Homo sapiens: one gene and its partners. The protein of the gene in region 1 purifies or fractionates together with the protein of each later gene. This does not show direct contact. Each region holds a gene or a part of one and is shown in the gene's direction. Other genes may lie near its edges.

Region 1 (5,496 bases):
AGGTTGCAATGTAGGTCCAGATGAAAAAGGAGAAGAGAGGTGTCTGAAAGCATGTGGGCATGGAGAATGAAAAATTCCAGGAGAAGGTGAATCTTTTTAATATTCATGAAGATGAAAATCAGACAGCTGAAGTCAAGGGGAACAGGTGTATCGGATTCCCTCATTGACTGATGCTCACCAAGCAGCTGTGTTAGCTCCCCGAGGAGGACGATGGTGGAGGGAGCATGGAAGGCAGGCTTGCCTGGCATCTGAGCACCTGTGGTCTGCACGGGGCCTGCATAAAGGAGGGAAGCATGATGTTTTCTAGGACAGTTAAAAAAGGGGGAAATGGGGTTTTGGATACCCAAGACAATAATGACTTTTTCTTTTTTTTTCTTTTTTTTTTTTTTGAGACGGAGTCTCGCTCTGTCGCCCAGGCTGGAGTGCAGTGGCGCGATCTCGGCTGACTGCAAGCTCCGCCTCCGGGGTTCACGCCAGTCTCCTGCCTCAGCCTCCCGAGTAGCTGGGACTACAGGCACCCACCAACATGCCCAGCTAATTTTTTTGTGTGTATTTTTAGTAGATACAGGGTTTCACCATGTTAGCCAGGATGGTCTCGATCTCCTGACCTCGTGATCCACCCGCCTCGGCCTGCCAAAGTGCTGGGATTACAGGCGTGAGCCACCGGGCCTGGCTGACTATTGTCACTTTTATAGGGTGGGAATTGTGGGGCTTGTGCTGGGCCTCCAGCTGTGGTACCTGGTCGGGGGAGTTGTCCACGCTGTATTTGTCTTCACTGAGGGTCCTGGTGCAGCTGCCCACAGGCCTGGCCAAGGTGCTGGGGGAAAGCTCCCGAAATGAGAAACCAGCCCTGTCTTGGGGAGAGATGTGCCTTTGAGGCTGACATCTACATGCTGGGTGGTCTGGGACCCACATCTAGAATCTTCGCAATGTCCATGTCTCTCATGCCTGTGAAACGCCCCTGCTCTCCCCTTAAAGGTATAACTTCTGCATGTTTGTGTTACGAAGGTTTGTTTATCTTATCAAGGAGTTCCTCATCCTAGTTCAGCTTTCTTTGAGGTTTCCTGGATTAATGATCTCAGAGGCTCTGCTTGTAGCTCCACTGTGATCACCTGATAGTTTGGGGGAGGTTTTGTACCTAACATTTCTACCGTCCTAACAACTCCTGCAGTGCACAGAGAACACCCCTAGCATGAACAGTGTGAGGATTCCACCAGCTTTTTCACCATGAAGGAGACAGACCGGGAGGCCGTTGCGACAGCAGTGCAAAGGGTTGCTGGGATGCTCCAGCGCCCGGACCAGCTGGACAAGGTGGAGCAGTATCGCAGGAGAGAAGCGCGGAAGAAGGCCTCCGTGGAGGCCAGATTGAAGGTGAGGCCACCTGCCCCACTCCCAGGATCTGTCTTGGGCTTCAGGTTCTTGCTTGACATCACCATGATGATTTTGCTAAACTAGCCTTTATGGTAATGTGCAAGGAGGCAGAGCTGGACTTTCTTGAGCAGTTACTTTCAGCAGTGTATTACCACTCAGTAGCTTTGCTTAGAAGACAGTGGGAATGGTGAAAACACCAAAGGAACAAGCTTTTAAACACCCTGAGGCCGGGTGCGGTGACTCATGCCTGTAATCCCAGCACCTCGGGGAGGCCGAGGCAGGCGGATCACCTGAGGTCAGGAGTTCAAGACCAGCCTGGTCAACATGGTGAAACCCTGTCTCTATGAAAATACAAAAATTAGCCAGGCATGATGGTTGACGCCTGTAATCCCAGCTACTTGGGAGGCTGAGGCAAGAGAATCGCTTGAACCCAGGAGGCAGAGGTTGCGGTGAGCCGAGATGGTGCCATTGCATTCCAGCCTGGGCAACAGAGTGAGACTCTGTCTCAAAAAGAAAAAAAAAACACAGAAACAAAAACAACACCCTGAAAGTGTCTATTAAGTTTTTAAACAATACTGGAGGAAGGAGAAGTAGTCTTATTTAAAGCTCTTCTACAGAGCACCACTAGAGGGCATTTTGTTCAGATTGTTTTAACTCACATTTGACAGAGAGCGGATCTGAAGCTCAGGTGCCGATTCTGTCCTGTGGGTCAGCCGTCCTGGGGCCAAGTGTGGTGCTGGCTGAACAGCAGGAACTCCCCCACCCCAAGCCAGTGAAGTCCTGACCGTTCTCTCTGCCTAGACAAGACCTTTTAGGAACCTAGGATGCCTGGGAGAGCATGGGTGACATCCTTCTGAAGGTACCGTAGCAGGCCACGGCCCAGGGCAGACCCGTGGTAGTGTCCAGGATCACCAGGTGTGAGGCTAGATGAGGAGTGTCCTGACCTTTTCTCATCAAGGCTTTAAAATGCATCATTGTTCTGTTCCCAGGCAGCAATGAAGAAAAAGGTACACTGTGAATCAATTAAATCCTTGTTGATTTTATTTTCTTTTCTGGGTATTGACTGTTTCCTGCTACTCAGTGGCTCTTTCCTGAACTTGACCCTCCTGGGGAAGATTTGTTCTTCAGGAGGCAGCGCATGGCTATCATTGGCTCTGCTCACCCGTGTGGCGTCTCTCTTTAGGCCGCCATCCAGTCACAGTTGGACGGGGTGCGCACAGGCCTCAGCCAGCTCCACAACGCCCTGAATGACGTCAAAGACATCCAGCAGTCGCTGGCAGACGTCAGCAAGGACTGGAGGCAGAGCATCAACACCATTGAGAGCCTCAAGGACGTCAAAGACGCCGTGGTGCAGCACAGCCAGCTCGCCGCAGCCGTGGAGAACCTCAAGAACATCTTCTCAGGTACCAGCCAGACGCCGAGGCACTTGCCCCCACTCACGCTGTCTTTGCATGACTCACTGAGTGCTCTGTGTGCAGTGTGCTTTGCAGCCCGCACTGTAGACCTGTAGACGGTAAGTGTGATTCTTGTCTGCTCAGCGTCTTTTTTTGAACGTGGATGGAAGTGATCAGCTGAGCATGTAAAGGCTAGGAGAAGGCTTGTAGTTCAGTGTCAGGACAGAGGCCCAGAAGCGGGCTGCCCAGCAAATGCAGTGTGGAGGGATTCCCTGGCTGAGTGTCGTTCCCTTGCTTGCGATGTGGCTGTTAGACTCTGTGAGTGCAGAAGAATGAAGACGCCGTGGCCCATGCTTAAAAGGAGCTGCAGGAGAAGCCACCCTGTGCATGGGACAGAGCAAGCAGATCCCAGAGCAGAAGGGTTGAGGCGAGCAGCAGCTCCCAGGCAGGAGGAGAAGCGTGTGTGCACAGGCCAGGGCAGAGGCGGGGCTGAGCGCCGTGGGGGAGTGACCCTTTCAGTCTTCTCCCTGAATGCCTCAGTTAGAAGGATGCCAAGGGCCCTGTAACCTGTCCCTGAACGGTGCCAGCTGGCCCTGGGTGGTGGCTCCCAGCATTTGTGTTCACAGTCTCCTCCTGCTTGCTGTGACAGGAGCTGCTTCCACAGCCTCATCCCTCCCCTTGGTCCCCGCTCTGTGTCAAGGTCAGCAGCATCCTTCCAGTCCCCAACTCAGAAGCCTTGGCAGGGTCTGATTCCTTCCCTTTCTTTGTTCCTGTCTCTGGCCTCTTGGCAAGTTCTTCCTGTTCCTCTACCAGACGTCTCTGCCCTGATGTCTGTATGACACTTCCCCATCCCCAGCCGTCACGTGCCCCAGCTCACCCTTCACAGTGGCTGTGCTGCATCATCTGTGACGCTGCTCGGCTCCTGAGGCCACGTGTGAATTGGCGCGGTTCTCCCCAGCTGCCCACAGCGCACCTTGGTAATCCGTGTCCCGTCCACCCTGTCCTCTCTGCCCTCCTCTCGTGCTTGCGGCTGCAGCATTGCCGAGCACCTTGTCCCGTTGCTTTGTGTGTGCCCTTCTTCCAGGGCATGATCCGTAGGGTCACATGTGTGGCTGCAGTCCGTGTCTCTTTGTGCATGCCCAACACGAACGCCACTGTGCTGCCAACTCAGAAAGCAGCTCTTCTTGGTGACTGTGGGCCGCCTGGAACAGGAATAAAGTCCTCTCGACGGAGTCTCCTTGGTGATGCTCAGCTGGCAGCTTTCTAGTTAATTTCCTCTTATTTCGTATTGGCTGGCTACATTTCCTTCCGGTCTTTTAAACTAATGCCTGATGACCAAAAAGGTGCATTACTGGAATTAGTTTATCCACAGCAGTTGAAAATAATTTCCTTTCCTTGGTGAACAAATGAGCCTGCGTGGTATGCATGTTTTTTGTTACGGATAAATTTTCATTGAGAAGATTGGTTTGGTTGCCTTCAGACTTGTCTCATTGCCTATAACTCAGCAATGCTGTGTACACAGCTCCCCTCCCCCATTTTTTCTTCTTCTAAAATGCATATGTACAGTTTGCCGTCTTAACCATTTTTAAGTGTACAGTTGGGGACTATTAAGAACATTCATATTGTTGTGCAACCATTGCCACATCCGTCTTCAGAACTCTTTTCATCTTGCAGACATGAAAATCTGTACCCATTAAACACTGACTTCGCACCCTCTGCCCCAGCTCCTGGTCACCACCATTCTGCCTTCTGTCTCTGTGAATTGGATGACTCTGAAGACCTCATAGAAGTGGCATCACACATTATCTGTCTTTCTGTGACATGCTTATTTCACTCAGCATGATGTCCTCAGGGGTCTTCTATGCTGTGGTATTGTAGAATTTCCTTCACTTTTAAGGCTGAATAATATTCCATTGTATGGATGGACCACATTTTGCTTATCCGTTTGTCTGTTGGTGGACATTTGAATTGCTTCCACGTTTTAGCTATTGTGAATAATGCTGTAGTGAACATGGGTGTACAGATGTTTTACTTTTATTTCTTTCTGGTATATACACACAAGTGTAATTGCTGGACCATGTGGTAATTTATGTTTAAATCTTTGAGCAGCTGCCAGACTGTTTCCTCCGGTGGCTGCAGCATTTTCCACCATGAGTGTGTGAGGTTTCTGATTCGTCTGCATTTTCATTCTTCTCTTAGGTTTTTAAAAATATCCCTTATGGCTGGGTGCGGTGGCTCACGCCCGTCATCCCAGCACTTTGGAAGGCTGAGGCAGGCGGATCACCTGAGGTCAGGAGTTTGAGACCAGCCCGGCCAACATGGTGAAACCCCGTCTCTACTAAAAATATAAAAATTAGCCGGGCGTGGTGGCAGGCGCCTGTAATCCCAGCTACTCAGGAGGCTGAGGCAGGAGAATCACTTGAACCCAGGAGGCAGAGGTCACAGTGAGCCGAGATCGCACCACTGCACTCCAGCCAGGGGGACAAGAGCGAGACTTCATCTGAAAAACAAAACAAAACAAAACAAAAGTCCCTTATGTTTCCTTTTTTGCCCCATTAATTGTTTAAGAGTATGTTGTTTAATTTCCACAAATTGGTGAATTTTACAGTTTTCCTTCTGATACTGATTTCTAATGTCATCTGTTGAGTTTGGAGAAGATACTTTGTATGATATTTATCTTTTAAAAACCTGAGTCTTAATTTGAGGCCTAATCCATGGTCTTTCCTGAAGA
Region 2 (3,500 bases), on another chromosome or scaffold:
ACTTTTGAAGTACCCAATTGATACATTATTTTATGGCTATGGATGGTGAATGGTGTTGAGATCCAAATTTTAAAGGATCATGACCATTGATCTCCAAAGTCAAGCAATAAATAGGTTTCTGAAGTTAATGACTGCATAGTCCATAGAAATGAATTATCGTAAACTGGTGGTTTCTTACATTCTCAAAATGAAAAATTATAAACAACAGAGTAGTTGTTGCCAGGGGTTGGTTGGGGATAGTGGGAGAGAGGAGTCAGCGTGGTTATAAAGGGATAGGATGAGAAAGAACTTTGTGGTGAGAGATTGGCGCAAGATCTTGATTGCAGTGCTGGTTACACAAATCTAGAACACCTAGGATTAATCTATGGCAGTGGTCTCAAATATTTTGGTGTCAGCATTCATTTACATTCTAAAAGTTATTGAGGACCCCAATGAGTGTTTGTTTATATGGGCTGTATCTATTAATATTTACCATACTAGAATTTTAAACTAACAACTTTTTTAAACACAAGAATAAGCACACAATTCCATTGGCCTTAAGAGTGATAATGTCATATGTCATGTAGCCACTGGCAAACTCCACTGAACAGTCATGAGAGAATGAGAATGAAACGGGGAAAAAAAATCTTAATAATTACTAGGAAAGTCGTTTTGATCTTGTGAATTCCCTGAAAGGATCTCAGAGTGGCGAGTGGGGCAGAGTCCAGGAGTCCCAAAACCATATGTTGAGAACTGCTGCTTTTTAATATGTAGATGTCATTTTACCCTGAGAGGCTTGAATTTTTTAATCCCTAAAAAGGGTTAATAGTAACGGTGCGTTTCTATTGGGGATAATTGTAAAGACTATAACTATGTATGTAAAATGCTTGTGAGCATAGTGCTTAGAAGATAGTAAACACATAAAAATGTTGTCTATTGTTTTTGCTGGAGTGGTGGTTGCTATTCTTGGTTCTCATTGGGAAAAGATTTGCAGATTAGTGATGTCTGATAAAATGAAGTTACTTTTTTGTTCAGCTGTTTTTTTTTTTTTTTTAAAAGGCTCAAATACAGCTTTTCTGTCCAAAGTATACTGTCCAAAACAAATTAAATATCTCAAATTCTGTTTTTGAGGCTTCATTTACAGTAGATATAAAGTATCACACTGGTGGCAGTTACACATATTTTTGCTGTTTGTTTTCTTAATATTCCTTCTTACATCTTTTGTTTTCACAGACAATATTATCCTTAACTAATTAATTATATGCAGATTCTTTTTGTTGAGGGCTAGTATTAAGATTTGCCTCTTACCAAATAATGGTATTCTTGTAATACCGTCATATGTTAAGGAGTTTCAGATTGCATGCCTATATGATAGCCCCTAATTACTCTCTCCTAATTTGCTGTGATGATTTCTTAGTTTTATGGGACCTTGTCAGATGGAACACTTTACTGAGCTAGGGTAGGAAAATTTCTCTGAGACAAGTATGAGTGGAAAGAGAGACCTGAACTAAATGGAAGTAATGATGTGAAAGATACCTCTTGATTCATTCTGATTAGACTTCCACTGTAGGGACAGCAGTAAATAAAGCTTTGCCAAGAGCCTGGGATGAAAATAAAGAATACACTTTACCTCTTCATCAAGTATTTATTGAGTGCTTATCATATATTTAGGCATTGGAAATACAGCGGTGTATAAACCAGACAAAAATCCCTGCCCTCAGGTTGTGAAAGTGGAGCAACACAGGCAATAACTTAAAAATTAAATATGTAGAATATCTGTTTGTCAAAGGTGCTACAGAGAAAAGAGCAGGGGTGAAAAATAGGGAGTGCTACTTAAAATTAGGTAAAGAAATCAGGGAGGGCTTTACTAACAAGGTAATATTTGGTCAGAGACCTATAGGGAGACAAGGCATGAGCCATGCATTTATATGGGGGAAGAACTTCTCTAGCAGAAGAAACAGCAAGAGCAAGACTCCTGAACATTTGTGATATGTTCCAGAAGTTTACAAGCACCTAGTGTGGAGTGAGCAGTAGTAGATGAGTAGTAATGGAGTGTCAGTAGAAGGGAGGAAATACTGTCAAAGGTAAGAGGTTATAAATCATCTGGCCCTTGAGGGAAGTTAATTGAACATTAAGGCTTGATAGAAAGTATTAGTGGCTAGGGTCCATTAATGACTGTCTTGTTGTAGTTTTGTAAATATTTATCTTTATTACTGATAAGTGAGAGCACTACAAATTACAAATTTTAATTGTAATTTGGATTTAAGACTGCTTATTAATTTAATTTTTTTCAAGGTTCGCTTCTATGAGCTAGTGAATCCATTAAGAAAGGAAATCTGTGAACTACAAGTGAAAAAGAATATCCTAGCAGAAGAATTAAGTACAAACAAAAACCAACTGAAGCAGCTGACAGAGGTTTGTATGGTTTTGATTGCTGGTGGGAAGAAGCTTCGGCTTTTTCTGTAGAGTCCCTCAGGATTTGTGATAAGGCATATAAAAGTCAGTGATTGAAAAATGGGACTATGGGATGGTGACTGCTACAGTTCAATAATGGGAAGGAGGTTAAATTGGAAGTAGTCATCTTAAACATTGACAAGACAAGTCTGTGTTATTGACGTATCCTATAGTTGAGCTTTTATTGTTGCAAGTCAATTTTATAATCAACTGCTTTTGAAATCCTAATATGGGCTATATCTGAAAATTGCTGTGTATCCTTAGATGACGCATATGCATGTATTTATTTAGTAATTTGTCTCTATTTTTAACATCACTTTGTCAGGAAATTTAAGCAAGAAACAAGAAATGTAGGCCAAGCTATGCAGGGGATCTCTTGCAGGTGCCATAAGAAAGAAGAAAAGGAGAATATTTTTACTTTGAACTAAGTTGACTCGTAGGTTCTGGTTTGCCTAAGACTGTTGCCATTATTCCTGTGAATAAATATTAATAGCACCCCTTTATTTTCAAAATTATCTCAGCCTAGACGATGAATATAGTAATCATAAATCAACATTTATATAGAAGGGTGGACTAATCATTAACTTGGTTGTATTATTGACCAGATATCCTAGAATACTATCTTGTAGTTATAGTCTACTAACAAAAAAATAATGGTAGATTGATTCATTCTACCATGTAACAGTTGGAAATGGGTGGCTGTTTTTCTTCAAATATTTCGTTATTCTAAAAGGAAAACACTTCTAGTTTACAAATGGGGGCTGCTGCAGTTCTTCATTACAAGTTAGCCTTGTTCGTGATATGAGATGGAGCTACTGTCCATTTATTACTTACGTGGCTTCTTTGTGAAGTGCAGTTAACTCTCATAATATTTATTCTGAGCATGTGTACTGATACTAGCATTAACCCCAGTGGTGTGCATGGTGCTGTGCTAGGTGCTGGCAGTGAACCCAAGAGAGGCAATGCCTGCCCTTCTAGAGTTTACTTTCTAGCAGGTTAGGATTAGAACGTTAGGTGATATTTTGACACTCTCATTTACTGTGTGACCATGACCAGGTCATTTAATG
Region 3 (3,500 bases), on another chromosome or scaffold:
GCCTAGCCAACATGGTGAAGCCCCGTCTCTACTAAAAATACAAAAATTAGCTGGGCATGGTGGTACACACCTGTAATCCCAGCTACTCAGAAGGCTGAGGCAGGAGAATTGCTTGAACCCCATAGGCAGGGGCTGCAGTGAGCCAAGATCACACCACTGCACTCCAGCTTGGGTAACACAGCGAGACCCTGTCTCAAAAAAAAAAAAAGTTTATTGAATGAATGAACTACAGGTAAAGGTGGAGATGACCCTACACATTAAGCAACGGACTTACCCAAGGGCAGCTGGTGGAAACCAAAGATGTTTTGGCAAATCCAGGAGTGGCTCACAGATGGCCTGTGACCTCACTCTAGGAAGTGGAGGGGCCCTGCCCTGGCCACTCAGAGGCATGGCAGAGGTCTCTCTGGTTCTCCTTCCAGCATTTAGGGGTGCGGAGCGGCTGGCACAGGCCTCTCACACAACCTGACTGATGGAGAGATGGACGGGGCGGGTGCCCCTGGAGGAAGTGGGCCCGGAGTCCAACCTTTTAACATGGGCTGAGATTTATGGAGCCGCCGCCAGCACTTGCTGGGACTGTCACTCTGCTAATGTGATTGGAACACAGTGGAGGTGGTGGGGAGGGGGCTGTGGTAGGGACGATGCTGGGGCTGGAATGGAGCCCAGCCTGGTCCCCGGAGGTGCTCTGCCCTCCCCTATACCCCTGCTCCTCCCACCATCCTTTGAGTTCATCCAGTCCTAATCGCCTACCTGCCCAAGTTAGACCCCATCTGACTCTGCCCAGACACACCCATCTTCCCGTGGGGTCCCTGGACATCCCTCCTACAGGAGTTCAGGCCTCTACCCGCGCCCCTCCCATGACCAGCCACCCATTGTTCGAACACGCACAAGGGCCATCCTGCCTGCCCTGGCCACTCTGCCCAGAACCCTGATGCACTGCCCTGCTCCATGTCTTCGTCCCGCAGCCCTGATTCCCTGCTTGCGTTTTGTGTTTGTTCTTCATTGCCTGCCTCCCCACCGGAATGGACTCCCCCGAGGGCAGGGTTATGGGAGATTCTGAGCTCCTAGAAGAGCTTCCTGCTTTGAAGTAAATAATTAACATCTGTGGTGCAGTGAGTGGCACCCTCTGTGTGCCCTGGGAGCCAGGGACACAGCTCTCAGTCTGGCACCCACATCCCATCCCCTCACCCTGGGGACTGCCAGTCTGCCAGTCCCTCAATGGAGAGGGGCAGCAGGCAACACCCTGGCCAACACCCCAATCAGCATCCTAGCCAACAGCCCAACCAACATGCCAGCCAACACCCCAACAACATGCCAGCCAACACCCCAACCAGCATGCCAGCCAACACCCCAAACAATACACCAGCAAACACCCCAACCAACACCCCAACCAACACCCCAGCCAACACGCCAGCCAACACCCCAACAAATACCCCAACCAACATGCCAACCAGCATCCTAACACCCCAACCAACTCGTGCCAACCAATATGCCAGCCAACACCCCAACCAACATGCCAACCAACACCCCAGCCAACACTTCAACACCCCAACCAACATGCCAGCCAACACGCCAGCCAACATCCCAACCAACACCTCAACCAACACACCAGCCAACATCCCAACCAACACCCCAACCAACACATGCCAACCAACATGCCAGCCAACACCCCAACCAACATGCCAGCCAACACCCTGGCCAACACCCCAACCAACATGCCAGCCAACACCCCAAACAATACACCAGCAAACACCCCAACCAACACTCCAGCCAACATGCAAGCCAACACCCCAACCAATACCCCAACCAACATGCCAGCCAACATCCCAAACACCCCAACCAACTCGTGCCAACCAATATGCCAGCCAACACCCCAACCAACATGCCAACCAACACCCCAACCAACATGCCAGCCAACATGCCAGCCAACACCCCAACCAACACACCAGCCAGCACCCCAACTAACACCCCAAACAACACTCCAACCAACACCCCAGCCAACACCTCAAGCAACATGGCAGCCAACACCCCAATCAACATGCCAGCCAACATCCCAACCAACACATGCCAACCAACATGCCAGCCAACGCCCCAACCAACACACCAACCAACACCCCAACCAACACCCCAGCCAACACCCCAACCAACATGCCAGCCAGCACCCCAACCAACACCCCAACATGTCAGCCAACATCTCAACCAACACTCCAGCCAACACCCCGGTCAACACCCCAGCCAACATCCCAGCCAACACTCCAACCAACACTCCAACCAACACCCCAACCAACACCCCAAACAACATACCAGCCAACACTCCAACACCCCAACATGCCAGCCAACACCCCAACCAACATGCCAGCCAGCACCCCAACCAACACCCCAGCTAACACTCTGGGCAACACCCCAACCAATATGCCAACCAACACCCCAGCCAACACACCAACCAACACCCCAGGCAACACTTCAACCAACACCCCAACCAACCCCCCAACCAACACCCCAGCCAACCCCCCAACCAACACCCCAACCAACACCCTGGGCAACACCCCAGCCAACACCCCAGCCAACACCCCAACCAACAACCCAGCCAACACCCCAACCAACACCCCAACCAATACCCCAGGCAACAACCCAACCAACATCCCAGCCAACACCCCGGCCAACACCCTGGTGTGGGTAGTGGCGTGGAGTTCCTGCCAGGAGGGGCCGGCGCAACTGGGGCTCAGAAGATGGGGCTGGGACTGGCCTGCAGGGCTTTGGGGCCCGAGCCCACTGTTTTTACGGCAAATGTGCGGTGATTTAGAGCAGAAGAGGGCTGCAGTCTCAGGGGAGCAGAGAAGGGAGTCTCCCGGGCACCCCCAATGCAGTGAGAGCCCCCAGGGGCTGCTGGGGCTAAAGGGACTTAACCTGGAGGGCACAGGACTCCTGTGCCTGCCTCACTCTGGGCCTGGACCCCCACCCACCACACCCTGGGGCCGAACTAGATGGTGCTGGCAATGCAGTGAGTCCTGGGGAAGTCCCCCTACTCCCTTACTACCCATTCTTCCCTGGAGCTCTCTCTGAGTTGAGGGAGCTATGCCAAATGCTGGGACTCAGGGCTTGGCTCTGCCTTCAGGGAGACCCAGTTTGGTAGGAGGCTTCCCAGCAGAGGGAGCATTTGACTTGGGTCCCGAAGGCTAAATAGGAGTTCTGCAGGTAGAGCAGGATGGACGGGCCCCCCAGGGGGAAGGCCTGTGTCTGCTTCAGGAAGGCTTGATGGGCTTGGGGCAGCTGCCAGCCTTCCCGACAGACCCTTTGGCCTGGTGTCTGCCAGGCCCCCTCCTCTCTCCCACCTCCCTCCTGGAAAGCTTTTACTGGCTCAATAAAAACATTTTTTAAAACACTCTCCTATTGTATGGTAAGAAGGGAGGCAGGTCCTAAATCAGGATGGGAATCGACAGAGCCCTGACGCCCGTGTCTCTCCTGTTTATTAGGACTGAAATGTTTACTCGGAGATAAGGAGC
Region 4 (3,500 bases), on another chromosome or scaffold:
GTTTTTGAGACCTAAGAAAGGAAAGGGTGAAGTTGTTCAGAATAGTCCTAATTTTGGGTCTGTGTTTAAATTCTTTTCAGCCTTAACATGTTCTGAGAATTCTTTTTAATAATGCACACTTTTGGACAACAGTTAAATATATAGCTTACATAAATTTATTGATTATAAATGTGAATAACTTTGTTTTTATTTTTTAAGGAACTAAAACAGAACCGAAGTCAGGAAATTGATGACCATCAACATGAAATGTCAGTACTGCAGAATGCACACCAACAGAAATTGACAGAAATAAGTCGACGACATCGAGAAGAATTAAGTGACTATGAAGAACGAATTGAAGAACTTGAAAATCTGTTACAACAAGGTTATTAGTTTTATTTCTTTATTATTATTATTTTTTTTGAGATGGAGTCTCCATCTGTTGCCCAGGCTGGAGTGCACTGGCGCGATCTCGGCTCACTGCAACCTCCGCCCCCCGGGTTCAAGCGATTCTCCTGCATCAGCCTCCCAAGTAGCTGGATTACAGGTGCCTGCCACCATGCCCAGCTAATTTTTGTATTTTTAGTAGCAATAGGGTTTCGCCATATTGGCCAGGCTGGTCCCAAACTCGTGATCTCGGGTGGTCCACCCACCTCGGCCTCCCAAAGTGCTAGGATTACAGGCATGAGCCACTGCACCTGGCCAGTTGATAGTTTTATTAATTTAACATATTAGATGACATAACTAAATGATAGACCTAGCATTCTAAGACCAGGACAGTGCTGTAAACTTGCCCTAAGTTATAAGGAAGTGTAAATGACTAGTTCTGCTTATCTGCCAGAAATTTGCAGTGGCACCTCTGCTTTTAAGATTCTGTGGCCGGGAGTGGTGGCTTATGGCTATAACCCCAGCATTTTGGGAGGCCAAGGTGTGTGGATCACTTGAGGCCAGGAGTTTGAGACCAGCCTGGCCAACATGGCGAAATCCCGTCTCTACTAAAAATACAAAAATTAGCTGGACGTGGTGGTGCTCGCCTGTGGTCCCAGCTACTCAGGAGGCTGAGGTGGGAGGATCACTTGAGCCCAGGAGGCAGAGGTTGCAGTGAGCCGAGATGGCACCACTGCCCTCCAGCCTGGGCAACAGAGTGAGACTCCATCTCAAAAAAAAAAAAAAAATTCTGTGAAAATGGAAATGTCCTTTTTACCTTTGTGGTAAATAGTTATAATTTATAGATTTCTTTGCATTGTTTGGTGATGATACTTTGGTAATAAATGATTAGAGATATTATCACTTTCTTTCAAACTAAGATACATAGGCCTTTATGTAGTTGATTCAAATATTTTCCCCCAACTTATTTATTTTAAAACACTTAGTTTATTATAGTAATTTAACTTTTAAGCTTTCCAAATTCTGAACTGTCTTATATCTCTTAGTTGTATATAGCAAACCGTTTATTTCTTGGTACTTGACATTTGATGTCATTGTTTTGTGTTTATGTTCTAGGTGGCTCTGGAGTTATAGAAACTGATCTCTCTAAAATCTATGAGATGCAAAAAACTATTCAAGTTCTACAAATAGAAAAAGTGGAGTCTACCAAAAAAATGGAACAACTTGAGGATAAAATAAAAGATATAAATAAAAAATTATCTTCTGCAGAAAATGACAGAGATATTTTGAGGAGAGAACAAGAACAGCTAAATGTGGAAAAGAGACAAATAATGGAAGAATGTGAAAACTTGAAATTGGAATGTAGTAAATTGCAGCCTTCTGCTGTGAAGCAAAGTGATACTATGACAGAAAAGGAAAGAATTCTTGCCCAGAGTGCATCAGTGGAAGAAGTGTTCAGACTACAACAAGCACTGTCTGGTATACAGTCTTTGGAACTTATTTCAGATTGCTGTTTCATTGCATAGTAGTTGTTTTTAGAGACAGATGCTTCACTAACTGAATACTTAGTGGAAATGGCATATTCCTGGAAATGACTGTGTGTCATTTGGGTAGAATTGTGTGGTTTGGATTCAGTGTAAGAGTTAATAGATTGCAAATAGGAATTTCCTATTAAAAAGGATTAGGTATTGCTATACTTTCTGTAACTCATCACAGCCCACATCCTCCAGTTAGGGAATACAGCCTTTCTTCTTCAAAGTCAGTTGTTACCTGTTTGAAACGATCTCCTATATCCAAGCAAAGCCCTGAGTGCTTAGAGCCATAGGTCTTCCACCATTTTCTATGCTCATGATGATATTTAGTTACTGTACCAGTATTCTGTGTTACAGAAAATTAGTACTAAATGAAATAGGCCAAACACCAGTAAATAAAATAAATTTTAAAGTAATTGTACTTACGTTTTAAAAAATAAGTTTACTTATTTAAAAAATAAATTTACTTACATAAGACTAATACATTTACTTACTTATCATATTGGGTGATCCAGATGAGTTTATGTGCTTAAAAGACAAACCCACTGCCTTAGTCCTTCCTCTTTTTTCTATTCCATTGACACAGAATTACTTCAGCCAGTCATAATTGCTTTTTGCCTATGTTAACTATGGCAGCTCTCTGAATGGAGCAGAATAGCGTAGTGGTTAAGGACATGACTGGGTTGGAATCGAGCTCTATCACTAATTAGCTGACCTTGGACAGGTTAACATCTCTATGCATTGGTTATTTCATCTATAGGGTTGGGATAATAATGGTATCTTCCTTGTAGTTTTAGTAATGAGGATTATATGAGTTACTTTCTGCCGCTCTTTAGGATAGTGTCTAGCCAATAGTAAATGTTGAAGAGTTAGCTTTTTTTTTGTTTGTTTTTTTGAGACAGAGTCTCGCTCTGTAGCTCAGACTGGAGTGCAGTGGCACGATCTCGGTTCACTGCAACCTCCACCTCCCGGGTTCAAGTGATGCTCCTCCCTCAGCCTCCCAAGTAGCTGGGACTACAAGCATGTGTCACCACGCCCAGCTAATTTTTGTATTTTTAGTAGAGACAGGGTTTCACCATGTTGGCCAGGATGATCTCGATCTCTTGACCTCATGATCTGCCCACCTTGGCCACCCAAAGTGCTGGGATTACAGGCGTGAGCCACCGCCCCCAGCTGAAGAGTTAGCTTTTAAAATTCTCTGTTCTCCATGATTCCTTCAATCTATTTTTTTCATTCTGCAGCCAGAATAATTTGTCAGAAATGCAAAGCAGGTTACTCCCCTGCATTTAGTACTTTATAGCTGCCTGTGAACTTCGGGATGATGTTTAAATTTCTTAGTTAGACATGATAATGTCTCTCATGATCTAGTTCCTGCCTATCTCTTCAGTTTCAACTATTCCCATGCTCCTGACATTCTAAACTTGAACCATATTGAATTTTCTATAGCTCCTTAAAGCAGCAATGTTACCTCTTCACTCTGTTACCCTTGCATTTTCTGCTTTCTCTGTGTGGAGTGTCTCTATGGCTCTTTTAGCCGACTCTCAGTATATTGATTCAGTGCAGGTATTAACCTCCACTGAGAAGTACCTAGCACTGCCACTT

What was found. Proteins that work in one complex are often made in the same cells at the same time.
Region 2: the proteins of EXOC3 (region 1) and PIBF1 purify together in Homo sapiens (affinity purification with mass spectrometry; 2 studies listed by BioGRID and IntAct, with this or other methods). This does not show direct contact.
Region 3: the proteins of EXOC3 (region 1) and MACROD1 purify together in Homo sapiens (affinity purification with mass spectrometry; 2 studies listed by BioGRID and IntAct, with this or other methods). This does not show direct contact.
Region 4: the proteins of EXOC3 (region 1) and TRIP11 purify together in Homo sapiens (co-immunoprecipitation; 3 studies listed by BioGRID and IntAct, with this or other methods). This does not show direct contact.

Annotation. Positions count from the first base shown.
Region 1 is NC_000005.10:444,979-450,474, forward strand, and holds part of EXOC3 (exocyst complex component 3), read left to right. Parts: intron 1-1,171; 5' UTR 1,172-1,227; coding exon 1,228-1,371; intron 1,372-1,842; exon of another isoform or gene 1,843-2,230; intron 2,231-2,360; exon of another isoform or gene 2,361-2,414; intron 2,415-2,554; coding exon 2,555-2,774; intron 2,775-5,496. UniProt on the Homo sapiens protein: Component of the exocyst complex involved in the docking of exocytic vesicles with fusion sites on the plasma membrane.
Region 2 is NC_000013.11:72,795,633-72,799,132, forward strand, and holds part of PIBF1 (progesterone-induced-blocking factor 1), read left to right. Parts: intron 1-2,274; coding exon 2,275-2,394; intron 2,395-3,500.
Region 3 is NC_000011.10:64,009,114-64,012,613, reverse strand, and holds part of MACROD1 (ADP-ribose glycohydrolase MACROD1), read left to right. Parts: intron 1-3,500. UniProt on the Homo sapiens protein: Removes ADP-ribose from aspartate and glutamate residues in proteins bearing a single ADP-ribose moiety. Inactive towards proteins bearing poly-ADP-ribose.
Region 4 is NC_000014.9:92,012,560-92,016,059, reverse strand, and holds part of TRIP11 (thyroid receptor-interacting protein 11), read left to right. Parts: intron 1-198; coding exon 199-364; intron 365-1,482; coding exon 1,483-1,845; intron 1,846-3,500.